Linked DNA regions of Homo sapiens: all the other regions are reported to be linked to region 1. The links are microRNA targets in miRTarBase. Many come from high-throughput screens and were not tested one by one. Region 1 holds a microRNA gene; each other region holds the end of a gene's coding sequence.

What was found. The annotated mature microRNA hsa-miR-126-5p reads CAUUAUUACUUUUGGUACGCG and lies in region 1 at 1,667-1,687, shown strand. An mRNA with a match to its seed (bases 2 to 7 or 8) in the 3' UTR can be bound and repressed. Matches are read on the target gene's strand: a 7mer-m8 pairs with bases 2 to 8, a 7mer-A1 pairs with bases 2 to 7 and ends in A, and an 8mer does both.
Region 2: miRTarBase lists ZBTB18 as a target of hsa-miR-126-5p. Seed matches in the 3' UTR shown: 7mer-A1 at 559-565.
Region 3: the mRNA of MR1 is a reported target of hsa-miR-126-5p. Seed matches in the 3' UTR shown: 7mer-A1 at 2,261-2,267, 8mer at 2,258-2,265, 8mer at 2,255-2,262, 8mer at 2,252-2,259, 8mer at 2,249-2,256, 8mer at 2,246-2,253 and 6 more.
Region 4: miRTarBase lists TRIM8 as a target of hsa-miR-126-5p. Seed matches in the 3' UTR shown: 7mer-A1 at 1,006-1,012, 8mer at 1,008-1,015, 8mer at 1,011-1,018, 8mer at 1,020-1,027, 8mer at 1,023-1,030 and 7mer-A1 at 1,042-1,048.

Annotation. Positions count from the first base shown.
Region 1 is chr9:136,668,950-136,673,240 of GRCh38, forward strand. It overlaps MIR126 (microRNA 126), which reads left to right and starts at 1,653; the gene lies at 1,653-1,737. It overlaps EGFL7 (EGF like domain multiple 7), which reads left to right. Exons shown (of 11, transcript NM_016215.5): 6 at 657-772; 7 at 965-1,060; 8 at 1,220-1,381; 9 at 2,001-2,065; 10 at 2,977-3,139; 11 at 3,315-3,729. The coding sequence ends at 3,337. It overlaps AGPAT2 (1-acylglycerol-3-phosphate O-acyltransferase 2), which reads right to left. Exons shown (of 6, transcript NM_006412.4): 6 at 4,194-4,291. RefSeq lists enhancers at 484-985, 986-1,485.
Region 2 is chr1:244,054,828-244,058,923 of GRCh38, forward strand. It overlaps ZBTB18 (zinc finger and BTB domain containing 18), which reads left to right. Exons shown (of 2, transcript NM_205768.3): 2 at 1-2,649. The coding sequence ends at 543. Among named protein-coding and RNA genes, the nearest start is that of ZBTB18, 5.6 kb to the left of the region's middle.
Region 3 is chr1:181,054,341-181,058,631 of GRCh38, reverse strand. MR1 (major histocompatibility complex, class I-related) reads right to left here. Exons shown (of 6, transcript NM_001385161.1): 6 at 1-3,407. The coding sequence ends at 3,367. Among named protein-coding and RNA genes, the nearest start is that of MR1, 23 kb to the right of the region's middle.
Region 4 is chr10:102,657,053-102,661,161 of GRCh38, forward strand. TRIM8 (tripartite motif containing 8) reads left to right here. Exons shown (of 6, transcript NM_030912.3): 6 at 1-1,266. The coding sequence ends at 302. Among named protein-coding and RNA genes, the nearest start is that of TRIM8, 15 kb to the left of the region's middle.

The DNA.
Region 1 (4,291 bases):
TGTCTGCACCCCTCCACTTCCGGGGGACTAACCCCTCCCTACCCTGGCATCCCTGGCTGCAAGTTCCCATATACACAGAATGGTGCCTGACTCCCCTGGTCCCACTCCACTGGGCACCCCCCTCCACATGACGGCCCCCAGTGGGCACAGATGAGACCCTGAAATGTCCTGTATGCCCACACAAGGGGCACACACCCCTAAGTCTCAGAGTCCTCCTTCCTGGGTGTGGGAGCTCCACCCCCTGCTGGGGGAGGGGCCTGGGAATTCAGACTTCTGGAGGTTTAAGAAGGGCTCCGATGCCCAGGGCCCACACTCTGCCGTGACTCGCCGTAGGCCGGGCACACCCTCTCCTCTGGGCCTGGATGCCCCCACAGTAGGAGACCAGATAGGTGGGGGCACACACAGGCCTGGCCACTGCCTCTGCTCCATGCGGAGTGTGGCTGGGCCTTCCTGCTGTGGCTTGAGTCCCGGCCAGCACCGGAAGGCCCAGGCAGGGAAACGGCTGTGCAGTGACCCCTCAGTGCCATCCCTTGAGGAGAAGACCCTTGGGGGCATGCTGGGGTGACCCTGTGCACTCTGAGAGGGGACTCTAGATGCCCAGCAGGTGACTAAGGGGGAGTAGGATGCCCCTCTGAGCTGTCCCACCCACCCCACAGAACCATCTATAGGACCGCCTACCGCCGCAGCCCTGGGCTGGCCCCTGCCAGGCCTCGCTACGCGTGCTGCCCCGGCTGGAAGAGGACCAGCGGGCTTCCTGGGGCCTGTGGAGCAGGTGAGGGCTATGTCCCTCGGCGCCCGGTGTTAGGAGGGCGACTGTTCCCCAATCTTCCAGCAACGCTCCTGCTGCTTTTCTTGAACCCCGAGCAAAGCACCACCTTGCCGCAGAGCACCCACTCCCTAGCAGCTGCCCCCACAGGGTGCTGGGGACCCAACTGAGCTGGTGACCAGCCTCCCCCGCCCACAGCAATATGCCAGCCGCCATGCCGGAACGGAGGGAGCTGTGTCCAGCCTGGCCGCTGCCGCTGCCCTGCAGGATGGCGGGGTGACACTTGCCAGTCAGGTGAGGCTGGCTCTACCCTGGGGGGCCCTGGAAGGGTCCTGGGCACCTCCTTGCATGTCCTGGGGTTACTGCTGGCCCATGAGTGGGTGGTTGTGAAGGGAGCTGTGTGGGCAGGACCCCTCCCGCAGGCATGGCCGCCTGACACCCCGTTTCCTGCAGATGTGGATGAATGCAGTGCTAGGAGGGGCGGCTGTCCCCAGCGCTGCGTCAACACCGCCGGCAGTTACTGGTGCCAGTGTTGGGAGGGGCACAGCCTGTCTGCAGACGGTACACTCTGTGTGCCCAAGGGAGGGCCCCCCAGGGTGGCCCCCAACCCGACAGGTAAACAGCCCTGGCTGTGCCTGGCCTGGGGAGGCGGGCAGGCAGTGGACATTGCCGTGTGGCTGTTAGGCATGGTGGGGGGCACTGGAATCTGGGCGGAAGGCGGTGGGGACTCCCTCTCCAGGGAGGGAGGATGGGGAGGGAGGATAGGTGGGTTCCCGAGAACTGGGGGCAGGTTGCCCGGAGCCTCATATCAGCCAAGAAGGCAGAAGTGCCCCGTCCCGGGGTCCTGTCTGCATCCAGCGCAGCATTCTGGAAGACGCCACGCCTCCGCTGGCGACGGGACATTATTACTTTTGGTACGCGCTGTGACACTTCAAACTCGTACCGTGAGTAATAATGCGCCGTCCACGGCACCGCATCGAAAACGCCGCTGAGACCTCAGCCTTGACCTCCCTCAGCGTGGCCGGGACCCTGAGCCTCTGCGCAGAGCCACCCGCCCCGACGTACTTAGGCGGCATAGCCCTGAGACCTCTGGCCAGCGCCAGGCAGGCAGCGGGGGCGGCAGAGGCCTGGGCCTGAGTCTTCTGGCTCTGCCTCTCCCTGGGGACAGGAGGGAGCCTGGGGGTGTGGGTGGGGAGCCGGCCGGCCGTGACCCAGCGCCTGGCTCTGCCCGCAGGAGTGGACAGTGCAATGAAGGAAGAAGTGCAGAGGCTGCAGTCCAGGGTGGACCTGCTGGAGGAGGTGAGGCATTGGTGGGGGGGGGGGGGGGCAGGCAGTCCAGGGTGGACCTGCTGGAGGAGGTGAGGTGTGGAGGGGCAGGCAGTCCAGGGTGAACCTGCTGGAGGAGGTGAGGCATCGGGGGGGTAGGCAGGCAGTCCAGGGTGGACCTGCTGGAGGAGGTGAGGCGTCGGGGGGGCAGGCAGTCCAGGGTGGACCTGCTGGAGGAGGTGAGGCGTCGGGGGGGCAGGCAGTCCAGGGTGGACCTGCTGGAGGAGATGAGGCGTCGGGGGGGGAGGCAGGCAGTCCAGGGTGGACCTGCTGGAGGAGGTGAGACGTCGGCAGGGGGCAGGTCTTCACAACAGCAGAGGCCCAGGCCCGGGTACAGGCTCCGTAGTCTCCTGGGACATGGTCCCGACCCACGGATGGCTGGGGGTGGTCTGAAAAGGTCCTGGCCCTGGGGAGGTGGCTTCCTCGCTGCTGACTGCCGAGGGGGCCCTGGCCTGGATCCATGCTGGGCAGAAGCAGCTGGACACTGACCAGGACCCCCCAGGGCCGGAGGAACCAAGCTTGACAGCCCCCCAGACAATACACAGAGCCTGGACCCAGACGAGACCTCCCCACCCCCCCATCTTTGTCCCCACCAGGACAAAGAGCTCTTGCCAGTCTTCCCACTGGCCAGTGGTCCAGCTGTCCCCCTAGTTCTCCTGCCAGGGACCCCAAGGCTGGGACCACCCCGCCAGCCTGATGCCCCAGGCACCCACTCTGCGGCAAGCTTTTCTGCCACGGCAGCCCCCTCTAGTGGACACTTGGAGCCCTGCCGCGGAGGCGGGGGCTGGAGGCTTGTGGAGCCCTTCCCAGGGGTCCTCCCTAGACCCCGGTGGAGCAGAGAGGGCGGGGGCCGGCCCAGGGTCACTGCCCTTCTGCACCCACAGAAGCTGCAGCTGGTGCTGGCCCCACTGCACAGCCTGGCCTCGCAGGCACTGGAGCATGGGCTCCCGGACCCCGGCAGCCTCCTGGTGCACTCCTTCCAGCAGCTCGGCCGCATCGACTCCCTGAGCGAGCAGATTTCCTTCCTGGAGGAGCAGCTGGGGTCCTGTGAGTGCCCCCACCCTCCAGAGCCCTCCTCCCGGGTCTGGGCCCAGTGGGCCTAGAGGGGCTACCCAGGCTTGGGGGTCGGGGGCGACCAAAGGCCAAGGGGCCAGTCAGATCTAGCTGGGCGGGGAGGCTGTGGGGAGCAGTGATCTCTGACCTTCGCCTCATCCAACCCTAGGCTCCTGCAAGAAAGACTCGTGACTGCCCAGCGCCCCAGGCTGGACTGAGCCCCTCACGCCGCCCTGCAGCCCCCATGCCCCTGCCCAACATGCTGGGGGTCCAGAAACCACCTCGGGGTGACTGAGCGGAAGGCCAGGCAGGGCCTTCCTCCTCTTCCTCCTCCCCTTCCTCGGGAGGCTCCCCAGACCCTGGCATGGGATGGGCTGGGATCTTCTCTGTGAATCCACCCCTGGCTACCCCCACCCTGGCTACCCCAACGGCATCCCAAGGCCAGGTGGGCCCTCAGCTGAGGGAAGGTACGAGCTCCCTGCTGGAGCCTGGGACCCATGGCACAGGCCAGGCAGCCCGGAGGCTGGGTGGGGCCTCAGTGGGGGCTGCTGCCTGACCCCCAGCACAATAAAAATGAAACGTGAGCTGCTGTGTCAGTGGATGGACTGGGGGCCTGGGAGGAGGGCGCTCACCTCCTGGCCACCCCTCCCAGACCCACTGCTGGGTGCCAGCTGGCAAAGGGGGCCTGGTGGAGCGGGCAGTCGTGGGGTGGGGAGGGGGTCCAAGGCAGAGGGGGTGGGCAGGTGGTTTCTGTGAGGCCACAGAGAGCTTTGTCCTGGGGACATGTTGGCCCCAACCAGAGGCCAAAGAGCAAATCTCTGGCCTCCTTCCCAGTAGCCTGAGGATCCCGGCACACTTGCCCGTTAGGCGACACCCCCACCCATCGATGGAAGTAGTATAGGGTGATGTGGGTCCACTCCTGGATAGGGAACACGGGTGGGTGGCGGTGCCTGCACCCTGGGCCTCTAGGCAGGGCAGCTGGGAAGACACAGCGTCGCCTCCACCGCCCTGGTCACCTGCCCGCCCTGTGAGTGACCACAGCTCCCCAGCCACTTCCAAGAGTGTGTTTATAAAAAAACAGCAACGGAGTACAGTGCTGACCCCACAGAGTCTTCCAGGCCAGCAGGAGCAGCAGGCCCCGATTCC
Region 2 (4,096 bases), not on the chromosome of region 1:
GAGCGTGTCCAGGTGGAGGGAGGCATGGAGAGCAGTCTGCTCCCCTACGTCTCCAACATCCTGAGCCCCGCGGGCCAGATCTTCATGTGCCCCCTGTGCAACAAGGTCTTCCCCAGCCCCCACATCCTGCAGATCCACCTGAGCACGCACTTCCGCGAGCAGGACGGCATCCGCAGCAAGCCCGCCGCCGATGTCAACGTGCCCACGTGCTCGCTGTGTGGGAAGACTTTCTCTTGCATGTACACCCTCAAGCGCCACGAGAGGACTCACTCGGGGGAGAAGCCCTACACATGCACCCAGTGCGGCAAGAGCTTCCAGTACTCGCACAACCTGAGCCGCCATGCCGTGGTGCACACCCGCGAGAAGCCGCACGCCTGCAAGTGGTGCGAGCGCAGGTTCACGCAGTCCGGGGACCTGTACAGACACATTCGCAAGTTCCACTGTGAGTTGGTGAACTCCTTGTCGGTCAAAAGCGAAGCACTGAGCTTGCCTACTGTCAGAGACTGGACCTTAGAAGATAGCTCTCAAGAACTTTGGAAATAATTTTATATATATATAAATAATATATATATATATACATATATATAAATAGATCTCTATATAGTTGTGGTACGGTCTAAAAGCAGTCTTGTTTCCTGGAAATAAAAAGTTGGGATATTAACTTGTTTTTGCACTTTAGAATAGCATGAGAATCTCACTAATTTAGCATTCTGATAAAAGAAACTTTAGAGCAAGTCAGAATAGAGAGGTGTTTTTCCTTTGAGGGGATAGGGGAAGTAAGCCAATAAGAACCTTTTAAACAAATCGTCCTGTCACAAAATGCTTTCATATGGCTTAATTTTGTCAACACTGCATTGTCTTTTGAGCTCTTTTTTCCCCCCCAACAAAGTTTTTTTGTTTTTTGTTTTTTTTTTTAAGTAGAAATTCCCTCCAGTTTTATTAGCCTCTTTATATGTCTCAAATTGCATGAATTTTTTCTGGCTGTTGGAAACCTGAATGCTTTTAGACCCAAATGGAAAATTTCTGAAATGCTGGATTATCTATTTTTAAACAAGCAGTTGACTTAAAACTTTCTGTGGCAACTTCTGGTTTTCTGACAGTTCCCAGTGAGAGAAATGCTGAAAGTACACTGGGATCACTGGGACACTGTCTTATGAAGGTTTGCTTGGGATGAAAAAGGATATTGCAGCTTCAGCAGTGTTGAACTGTGTGTTTAAAAATGTGAATTACTGTTATTGTATACTGTAATTGATTACATGGGCTGGGGGGGTGTCAAAGAACTTGACAGGTTGTGTTGATGCTCTTAGTTGAGTCTTGAAAAGTAAATATTAACGCTACAGAAATGCATGAGTTTCAATATATTTTTTGTCTTTGTTTGCATTGTATAACTTTAACGAGTGAGTTTAAAATTATTTAATTTCCTTAGAAAAATAACACCATTTGGAAAAAAAAACTGGTGTTATGAAGAACGTAAATGCACTGTTTTTATTTTTATTTTATATAATTTAAATTGACTTTCCCACTGTCTTTAAGTTGAAACTGTTAAGCTGAATAAAAACTTAAGCTGCAAATTGATAACTTCGCTACATAACAAGGAAAATATAAATGTTTACAAACAGCTTAAAGATTTGCATGTGCAGTGTGCATTTATAACAAACTTCTAATTGCACAAAACCCATGCCAGCTCAGAGTTTAGGTGTACACATTTACCCAGTTGAGCGTTCTTAGAATAACTACTGCACAAGTTGACAATAGGTCGTTCTCTCTTTTTTTTTGTTTGCTCCCTTTTTCTTTTTCTCCCCTTCCTCCTTACCCTCCCTCCCTTACTCTCCCCCCCCACCACCACCCTCCACCCCCAACTCATGAAAAGATTCTATGGACTGAAAAAGCCCCAGGCTGAAAGGACTGGACTGCCTTGATTGACATGGGGAAGGGGGTTAGTAGACTATGTGGATTGCGGCAGCAGAGGCTGCAGCCTAACGTGTGGTTTTAATGACCAGCACGCAAGGCAAAAGCATTTTGCACAGTGTTTGTTTTCCTGTCTTGCACTTACAAATAAGGTCTATGGGAGTAGCATGGAAAACGTTTGCTGTTTTTCCCTTTTTTTTTTAATTGCTTTTGTTTAAAATTTGATCGCCTTAACTACTGTAAACATAGCCTATTTTTGTGCTTAAGATACTGAATGGAAAACTCCATTGTGTGTTGCTGGACTGTTTTGGAAATATTTGGTTAAATGTGTGTTAATTTGGCTGTAATGGCATTTAAAGCAAACAAACAAACAAAAAAAGCTGTGAAAATGGCCTTGGAGCATTATCTTTAGTTACTTGAAGAGTTTCTAGTTTTTTTAAAATACAGTTTATGTTAAAATAATTTTTATTAATTTAGAGAAGACAATCAATGTCTGTGAGAAAACGGACTTTCTTTTGGATTTTCTTTTTGTGGTCATTGTGAGTGATTGCTTTTTCCTTTTCTTAGTTTCACATTCTTCCTTTGTTCTAAAACTTAGACTGACATCTAGCTTTGACAATCATAGTATGTTTTATTTTCCTGAGGGGGAATAACTTATAATGCTGTTTAGTTTTGTACTATTGGTGTGTTGGTGAATTTTTAAACTGTGTGCTAACTGCAATAAATTATATGAACTGAGAATTTCTTGTGTGTATTTTTTATTGTGATTATGTAGTGTATAGATTCTAAATATGTATCATACCTGGCATCTTTAATATCAATTCTATTCGGAGTTTATGAAATTATTAGAATGCCTTAAATCACTCGAGTGGAAAATGTGTAAGCATTCTAGTCACTTAAGAAGATACTAAATGCACATTTAAAAAATGCGACCCATTTTCACAATCTACATCAAGAATGTTGAGGTAATTCCCTAGAAACTCATGAATCATGAAACTACGTGGCAGCATAGGTTGTTAAAAATACACTGTACAACTACTAATCCATATACCGTAAGTCACTTTTCGTGTGTAATTTTATCCTAAGTTGATCGGTCAAATCTATTCTCCTGTGTTCTGGTTTAAGTGGAAAATTGAAGGAGACCGGATGTTTTAATTTGGAAGACTGCTTGGCTAATGACTGGAATTCTAGGCAATTGAATTAGCAGGCATGCAATTGTTCACGATTAGCTATATACATCCTTTTTGTTGCTGGGAGAACTCGAAAGTTTCTAGGTTTTAATTCTCAAGTTTTAATTTAAACATGTAATTAAATACATGGACCATTAAAAGAACTCTGTTCCCTACTTTTTATGATTGTCCCAACTTCATGCTTATCTAGTTGGGTACATGTCAGGGTGAGAAACATTGCTGGTTGACCTGGGTAGGGAATTGACAGAACACTCACACATGCGGATGATACTGTAGAGGAATTGTCACAAACAACCCTAAGCTCAAGCAGTCAGGTGCAGGCATGGAGAGGTTTTGTAAACCGTGCTTGTCTCTAACTTCCAACCTTAAATAGAAATATGACTATGAAATTTTACATTATTACTGTCAAACTATGTTTATATTCAGTGGCCTATAGTAAGGTCAATATTTTTAACCTACAGAAGTGGGATATAAGGTCTGAAGTTTGAAAATGGACCATTTACCAACTACCTGGTGGCTTTGGATAGGAAGCCACAGGGATTTTGTCATGAAGTATAATAACATAATTTGGAATCCTAATTTCCATCCCCCTGCCTTTTTTTTTTTTTTTCTAAAACAATTTTTAAAGTATGTAACTCATCCTTGGTTTTAACCAGCCAAATACTGTTTCACATGAAAGGGGAATGTACATTTGACCCCCATAGAATAATTTCTTGAGCAGTTACAAGCTTACAAAAAGGGGAGGGAGGGGGACTTTTTATTTTCAGTTCCTATAGTAACTGGTCAGAGTATCTCAAAGCTTCCTGAAGATGCTGAGCGTTTACTTGAATTTAGTTCTGTGGACTAACATCTAATTTTAAGTAAGGAACATTATCTTAACAATCTTAACTGGATATACTTATAAAAATAATATTTTGACATGATTTGGAAGAAGTAACTTCTTAAAACATTCTTTGCAAAACTAGAACAGAATATTAATTACACAAACTGCCACATTT
Region 3 (4,291 bases), not on the chromosome of region 1:
TCTTCTCTCAGGCCAAAAAAAGAAGAGGAGAAACCAAGTCATTCCTCAGAAATAAGGAAAGGATCACAACTTGGAAATCATGGGAGTAAGAGGAGAGAGGAAAGGAGGACTGGCCCCTGATGGGAGAGCTCAGAAACTCTCGATGGAGTCTTGTTGGATTTTTCACCCTGCTCTTTAAACTGCTTTCTCTCCCTTAAATGTACCACATCAAAAACATCTGCCATTTAAATTTACCACATCTTGGTCTATATGCACATCAAAAACAAACAAACAAAAAAAACAAAAACAGGTAATAAATACAGTGGAGTTAAAAAAAAAAAAAAGAACAGAGTTGAACAGGTTTCTCATCTAGTGTTCTTGATCCAAAATATTCAGTAAAGAAAATTCAAAGCCAAAACATAGCTGTGGCAATAGCACAGTTATTTGTTTTTAATGTTTAGATCATGGTGTCAAATATTTCATAGGTTATGATTACTGAGCATCTGTACTCAACAACCATGAAGTAATGAAGCAATAACAAGGCTAAAACAATTAAGAAGTAATATAATCTTCAACCATCTATAGTAAAATGAAGGTTGCAGAATTTTAGGTATTACTTACTTATTTTATTTTTATTTTTTTGAGATGGAGTTTCACTCTTGTTGCCCAGGCTAGAGTGCGATGGCGCGATCTCGGCTCACCACAACCTCTGCCTCCCGGGTTCAAGCGGTTCTTCTGCCTCAGACTCCCGAGTAGCTGGGATTATAGGCATGCGCCACCATCCCCGGCTAATTTTGTATGTTTGGTAGAGACAGGGTTTCTCCATGTTGGTCAGGCTGGTCTCGAACTCCCGACCTCAGGTGATCTGCCCACCTCGGCCTCCCAAAATGCTGGGATTACAGGCATGAGCCACCGTGCCCGGCAGTATTTTTTTTTTAATCATCTCTTTATATTATGATTCTTTTAGTATTATAAAATCCCCCAGGAAGAAACATAAATGCTACAAGTGCATAACAGAATGTTTTGTCATCACATCCTTGTCCTTGCCTCCTCTTCATCCATTTGGACATATTATGTGTTAGGTGTAGGGCAAGGCCTTGGAAACACAGAGGCTTTTTATCTGTGTCTTTGATGAGAGTATCCTGCAGTTGCAGAATCAAAAGGCATTTACATAGATACATTATCACCTGTGTCTATGTAAATATGTACCTTTTCACTTTAAATGCCCACCCAAAAATATATTACATCCTAACTATTCTGATTGTAAGAAGAAACCATTCCAGAAATAAACTTGCCTACATTCTCTTCACAGTGCAACACTGCTTAAAAGTGGCACGGAAATTGCCCATGGCAACCCTAAAAACAAAATAAACACAACTGTGCTTCTATGCAACTCAACAGGCACCGGAAAAGAGAGATGTACAGTGGTAGCTTCATATATGGAATTACATGGGACAGTGGAGCAAGGAGGAAGCCTGGCAGGTGAGCTCTTAGAGGCCTGGCACACTGAGGGTATCTTTCTTTTTTTTTTTGGAGACAGAGTCTTGCTCCGTTGCCCAGGCTGGAGTGCAGTGGTGTGATCTCGGCTCACTGCCACCTCTGCCTTATAGATTCAAGTGATTCTCCTGCCTTAGCCTCCCAAGTAGCTGGGACTATAGGCACATGCCACCATGCCCAGCTAATTATTTGTATTTTAGTAGAGACAGGGTTTCACCGTGTTGCCCAGGCTGGTCTTGAACTCCTGAGCTCAGGGAATCCGCCTGCCTCAGCCTCCCAAAGTGCTAGGATTACAGGCGTGAGCCACTGTGCCCGGGCTGAAGGTACCTTTATCTGAGGCTGTAATGATTAAAGCCAAAGGTCAAATGTCACAGTCAAGGTCAAGGGAGAGCAGAGGTCAAACCTGAGGTGCAGGACAAAAGCCACTTGTCAAAGTTCAGGTCACTGAAGTAAGCATTAGGGCTCAGGTGCAGAGTCAAACGGGGTCAGAGAAGTAGGACCGAGGAATGTGTGACTGGCAGCCCCAGGGCAAGTAGCTCCACATGGCAGGGCAGTAGGTGAGGCCTCAGGGGTTGGGGATAGTAAGGAACATTAAGGGGATGTTCATTCTCACCATGGGCTTTTATTGATTCCCAGTGCATATGTATGAAGACAACCTATGTAGGAAGGCAAGTCATGCCCAGCTACCATGAGCCAGCACAGGAAAGGCAGAAATGAGAATTGAGCCCTCTCCTGACACCAAATATACTGTTATTATTATTATTATTATTATTATTATTATTATTATTATTTTGAGATAGAGTCTCACTCTGTCGCCAGGCTGGAGTGCAGTGGCGTGATCTCGGCTCACTGCAATCTCTGCCTCCCGGGTTCAAGCAATTCCCCTGTCTCAGCCTCCCAAGTAGCTGGGACTACAGGCACGCAACACCATGCCCAGCTAATTTTTTGTATTTTAGTAGAGACAGGGTTTCACCATATTGGCCAGGATGGTCTTAATCTCCTGACCTCGTGATCCGCCCGCCTTGGCTGCTCAAAGTGATGGGATTACAGGCGTGAGCCACTGCACCTGGCCATACTGTTATTTTTACATTAAAATAGTGCAGCTGGGTCCAGGTCTCTGTAGTTCCACTGGAGGTGATGATATGTCTGATAATTATTTCTCTTAATTTCCCACAAAAGACAAAAAGGGTGAGACTACCTCCATAGATCCAACCGGGCAGATTACCAAGATTCCAAGCTCCCAGGCAGGGTTGCTGTGAACAGCAGGGGACTTTGGCTTTCTCTCAGGCCAGAAAATGTATAAAAATAATCAGTCCATTCCCAGGCCATTGTAGAAACCTGCCGGCTACTCTCATGGAGTGATCCAATCCTACCTGTAGGGTCACAGTCATGGTGCCCATGATATTCAAAGCGCTTGTACAATAAATGTTCCCATGAAAGATGAATGAGAAAGGCCATTTTATGAAGTACTGAGGTTCCCTTCACATGGTGTTCAAGTGGAGGCTGGAGGCTCAAGTCCAAGGCATTGCAGAAGACAGTTCCTGCTCTGGTTGAAAAGATTCCTTCCTGCTCTGAGAATCTCCAACTAGTTGCAAATCATCATTGACAAATAGAATGTAGGGAAGCGTTGTGTCATGAGACAAGCTGTATTTAAAGTCAACTCTGATAAAACAGTCCATCAAAAGAGACTGAAAGCTGACAGTCTTTTTGGAGCCAAAGAACAAAGAACATTTTGTGGCTCCTCTGTTGCTGCCATAAATGCTCAATCCCATTACTCTCATGTATGTTGTGGGTGTCGTCAGGACCTTCAAGCACTAGGCTTGACTCTATGGGGGACAGAGGATAACATGGCTCCTAGAGGAAGGAGAACTGGAAAAGAGGGATCTGCAATCATCGATCTGGTGTTGGAAGGTAGATGGCTCCATTTTGCTCTGAAAGGAAAGGGGTTTTTAGTCAGATTACAAGAATGTTTCCTCACAGCTCAAAAATAAAGTATGCAGTGTTCAGCAAAATCTGAGAAACAGGCATCGACAGTTTTAGCTTGCTTTGTCAAGATTCTCTTAGTACTTGACAAACTTTAGCTCAAATTTGTAAACTCTATAAGATAAAAAGCAGGAACTCACAGTCTGTATAATTATTGAGAGAGGGATGTCATTGTAAAAAAATTTTTTGTTTGTTTCACTATCATTTATTGGATTAGGATTAGTGCTGTACTTTATCTATAAAGAAAACATTAACAACCCATTAACTCTCTGAGCTGATTTTCTTTTCTTTTCTTTTCTTTTTTCTTTTTTGAGACAGAGTCTCGCTCTTGCTGCCCAGGCTGGAGTGCAATGGAGCGATCTTTGCTCACGGCAACCTCCGCCTCCCAGGTTCAAGCGATTCTCCTGTCTCAGCCTCCTGAGTAGCTGAGATTACAGGCATGTGCCACCACGCCCAGCTAATTTTTTTTTTTTTAATATTTTCAGTAGAGGCAGGGTTTCACCATGTTGGCCAGGCTGATCTCGAACTCCTGACCTCAAGTGATCCGCCTGCCTCGGCCTCTCAAAGTGCTGGGATTACAAGTTGTAAGCCACCACGCCCGGCCTCTGAGCTGATTTTCTAGTAAAAGGGTTGGTTTTACTTTGATCTAACAACATGCTTTTGTACAGTTATCACCTGAATTGGAGTTGAGGTCTATGTCTATGAAGGAAAACCAAACTTCTGGTCCACTTTGGGTTCAAAGCATGGTCTCATCGGTACTATCCTGTGATCAATTTGAGCAATTAGTGAAGCCAGAGCCAGGAGATAACCTTACCAGGCTCTATTGTAAGCT
Region 4 (4,109 bases), not on the chromosome of region 1:
CCCAGCAGCCCATGCTCCCCCAGTATGGCGGCCGCAAGATTCTCGTCTGTTCTGTGGACAACTGTTACTGTTCTTCCGTGGCCAACCATGGCGGCCACCAGCCCTACCCCCGCTCCGGCCACTTTCCCTGGACAGTGCCCTCGCAGGAGTACTCACACCCGCTCCCGCCCACACCCTCCGTCCCCCAGTCCCTTCCCAGCCTGGCGGTCAGAGACTGGCTTGACGCCTCCCAGCAGCCCGGCCACCAGGATTTCTACAGGGTGTATGGGCAGCCGTCCACCAAACACTACGTGACGAGCTAACGCCACGCAGGCGGCGGGGCGCTGGGGAATCTTCCTCCCCAGCCCCCGGGCTCGGGAGTTATGCATCCAGAGACCTGCCCTTCTACCTTCCTCGCCTCCCCTCTTCCTCATTCCATTGCCCCAGGTCTTTTCCTTTTGGATTTTGTTTTGGTTTTGGCTTTGTTTTTGATTTTTTTTTATTATGAATCTCCTGGACGCAGAGGTGACAGTGGGAGCTGGCCTGGGCCAGGACGGCAGGTGGCCCTGGAGATGGGAAAGTGTCTGTGTCGAGGCGCTGAGCTCTCTCTCTGTTTCTCCTTTTTTCCTCTACTCCTTCCCCTTCACACCCCCGTGGCTGGAAGGAACCTCGGCTTCCCTGAAAGCTTGGGGGTCCCACCCTTCTTACCCCACCCGGGAGGAACGCCCAGGGCCCCGGGCTTGTTTCTCCTCTTGTTTTCCTTTTGGGCAGTTTGATCACTGATCGAGTAAGGAATGACCTTTAGATTGTGCGACTTTTGTTTTTGTTTTTTTAAATTTTTTTAAACCAAGAATGATTTCTCCTGCTTCCTTCTCCTCACCATCTTCCCAGACGGAGTTCAAAGGCCACTTCTCAAGCAGCTTTTGGCACCTTCAGCCTCAGAGTGGAATCTTTTAAAGACAGGACCCCTATGTCCAGGAAAGGGGAAAAGGAACTTTGCCAATGATAGTGACCACAGCAAAAGCAAATAATAATAATATTAATAATAATAAAGAGAAATAAAATAATAAAATAAAAAACAATAGCACAGCCCTTGTTGAGGTCAGCAGGGAGGAGGGGCTGCCCGGAGTTGGGTCCTTGCCTGGATTTTGACACAGCAACTTCCTGTAGTGAGCACTTTGTATGAATCGTGGACTTCCTGTTCTCAAGGCGCAGGTATTTATTCTGTATCTGTCTAGAGCACACACCAAAATCCAACCTTCTAATAAACATGATGGCGCAGTCCCACTCCCTGCCTCGCCTGTTCCCCTATCCCCCCCAGGCCTGGGATCTTCAGGCGTCGGTGTGGGGAGGGGCCCCTGCCCTCCTTGCCTTGATTTTGCTCCCCTGGGTCCAGCTGGTTCCAGGCCTGTGAATGTCAGTTCGTCGGGCACTGACTCCGTCTGCTCTTGGCCTTGGGTTCATTTGACAAATATTTGCCCAGGGCCTCCCAGGCCCAGCCCCATGCCACCTGGGCCCCGGCATCTCTTTGAGGTTCTGCCAATGTGCTCTTAGCTGAGGACGAAGGAGGAACACCTTTCTATGAGTCTTGCAAAGTTTACCTCCTTCAGGCCACAAATATTTGAGTGCACACTACGTGCCAGGCACTGTGCAGGGCTGCAGGCATAGAGACAGAATGTAATCTAGCTGGGCCTTGGACCCCATAGGGAGAGGGGACCACTCAGGTCCATACTTCCTTTGGACTTGGGGCTTTGGCCTTGGGAGGGGTGGAGGTGGGGTGGCAAGATGAAAAAGACATCCTGCCCCCATCCACTTCGGCAGAGCTTCTCAAAGTCTCAAGCATGTCTTGGGAGCTTGTTAAAAGGGCCGATTCCTTGCTGTGGCTCACGCCTGTAATCCTGACATTTTGGGAGGCCAAGGCAAATTGCCTGAGCTCAGGGGTTTGAGACCAGCCTGGGCAACATGTCGGAACCCTGTTTCTACAAAAAATACAAGAATTAGTTGGGCGTGGTGGGGCACACCACACCTGTGGTCCCAGCTACTCTGGGACTGAGGTGGGAGAACTGCTTGAGCCTGGGAGGCAGAGGTTGCAGTAGGTCTAGATCAAGTCACTGCACTCCAGCCTGTGCAACAAAACAACAGAGCAAGACCCTGTCTCAAAAAAAAAAAAAAAAAAAGGGTAAGGGTGCTGATTCCTGAGGCCTAGCTTAGACTCATCGGGAATCTCTGAGAGCCCAGGAATTTGCATTTTTAACTCTATTCTCCCATATCCTGGGTTTAGAGAAGTGCTGCCATTGTGGTGGTCAGGGTCCTCCCTGCTGCTTGTCACAGAGGCCACTGCGGGGAGAGGAAGCTGGGACACCCCCAAGGCCCTTCTCTGGAGAGGGGCCTCACCTTCAAAAAGGCTCCGGTTGTTGCCTGATGCTCTGCACAGAGCTGTAAGTCCGCAGCCCATGCACTTCTGTAATCTGCTGGGTGCCTAGTTATCTTTCTTCTTGTTTGGGCAGAATCCGGGCCTGAATGCCACCCACCCCAGGAAGCCCAGGACAAGGCAGACAGCCTTGTAAAGTCCCATTCCTGCCAGGCGCGGTGGCTCATGCCTGTAATCCCAGCACTTTGGGAGGCTGAGATGGGCGGATCACCTGAGGTCGGGAGTTCGAGACCAGCCTGGTCAACGTGGTGAAATTTCATCTCTATTAAAAATACAAAAATTAGCCGGCATGGTGGTGGGCGCCTGTAGTCCCAGCTACTCAGGAGGCTGAGGCAGGAGAATCGCTTGAACCTGGGAGGCAGAGGTTGCAGTGAGCCGAGATCGTGCCACTGCACTGCAGCCTGGGTGACAGAGCCAGACTCCATCTCAAAAAAAAAAAAAAAAAGTCCCATGCCAGTGGTCCAAGCCTCACTGACCCCTAGCCACCCCTCCCCTCAGAAAAATAAAGGCTTGCCGAGCACGTTGGCTCATGCCTGGAATCCCAGCAGTTTGAAGGTGGATGGATCACTTGAGTTCAGGAGTTCAAAACCAGCCTGGGCCACATGGTGAAACCCCATCTCTACTAAAACGAAAAATTAGCCAGGCGTGGTGCCACGGGCCTGTGGTCCTAGCTACTCTGGAGGCTGAAGTGGGAGGATTGCTTGATTGAGGCTGGGAGGTGGAGGTTGCAGTGAGCTGAGATCTTGCCACTGCACTCCAACCTGGGCAACAGAGCAAGATCCTGTCTCAAAGAAAAAAAAGAAAAATAAAGACTTTGGGGCTGGCCAGACCAAACCATAGCCTTGGTCTTGCTAACTGCCTCCGCCTTCCTGCCCTGAGGGAGTAGAGGATGACTCGGGTGGGGTGGTGGACCCTTGCTTCATTGTTCCCCTCCCCAGTGTGGCAGGGAGCCAGGAGCAGTATGACAACAGCTGGCCTACCCCTTCCCTCCCCGTGCACCTGTTTGGGGCTAAAGGGAGTGGGGAAATGACTGGAGCACAGTGCCCCTCCAGCCCAGGGTGCAGGATGCCTGGGGGCAGGTGCCGGTGGACAGTCACTTCACTCCACTCAAATCTGCTTCTGTCTCACTGTCCCTTTCTCCAGTTCTCAGGAGCCCTGAGACATCCCCCGTGCCAAGAGTTGGGAGCCAAGATAAAAAGCTGCCTAATTTCTTTCCCACTTGGCCTAGTTTTGTTTTGGCTGAGGGGAGAGGCCCTTTCCCCAGGTGCGTCAATCCACTGAGATGTGGAGGGGACATTCTGGTGGGAATGGGATGGGCTTGAGCCCCTCCATGTCCCAGCTTTGAAGCCCACTCCAGACAATGACACGCTCAGGCACACATCTATAGGTGAAGCAGCAGCTGCCCAGAGTTGGCTTGGGGGGGGTTCCCTAGGCAGCCAGGGAAGCAGGGAGACGCTAACCCACCCAGCTGTCCCCAGCCACCCAGCTGTCCCTGGCTTTGTAGGAGCAGCTGTCACCCAGCTCCCAAAAGGGTCGGGGCAGAGGAGGCCCAGAAAGAGCTGGGGCTGCCCCAGGGAACAGGCTTATTCAGAAGTCATCGGAGGGGCCTTCTCTGCCCTGAACTGGTGGCCCCTTGGAGGGCTGGCTGCAGCCACAGGTGCCCCAGTGCCCAGCCCTCCCCTCCTGCCTTCCCCCAAAG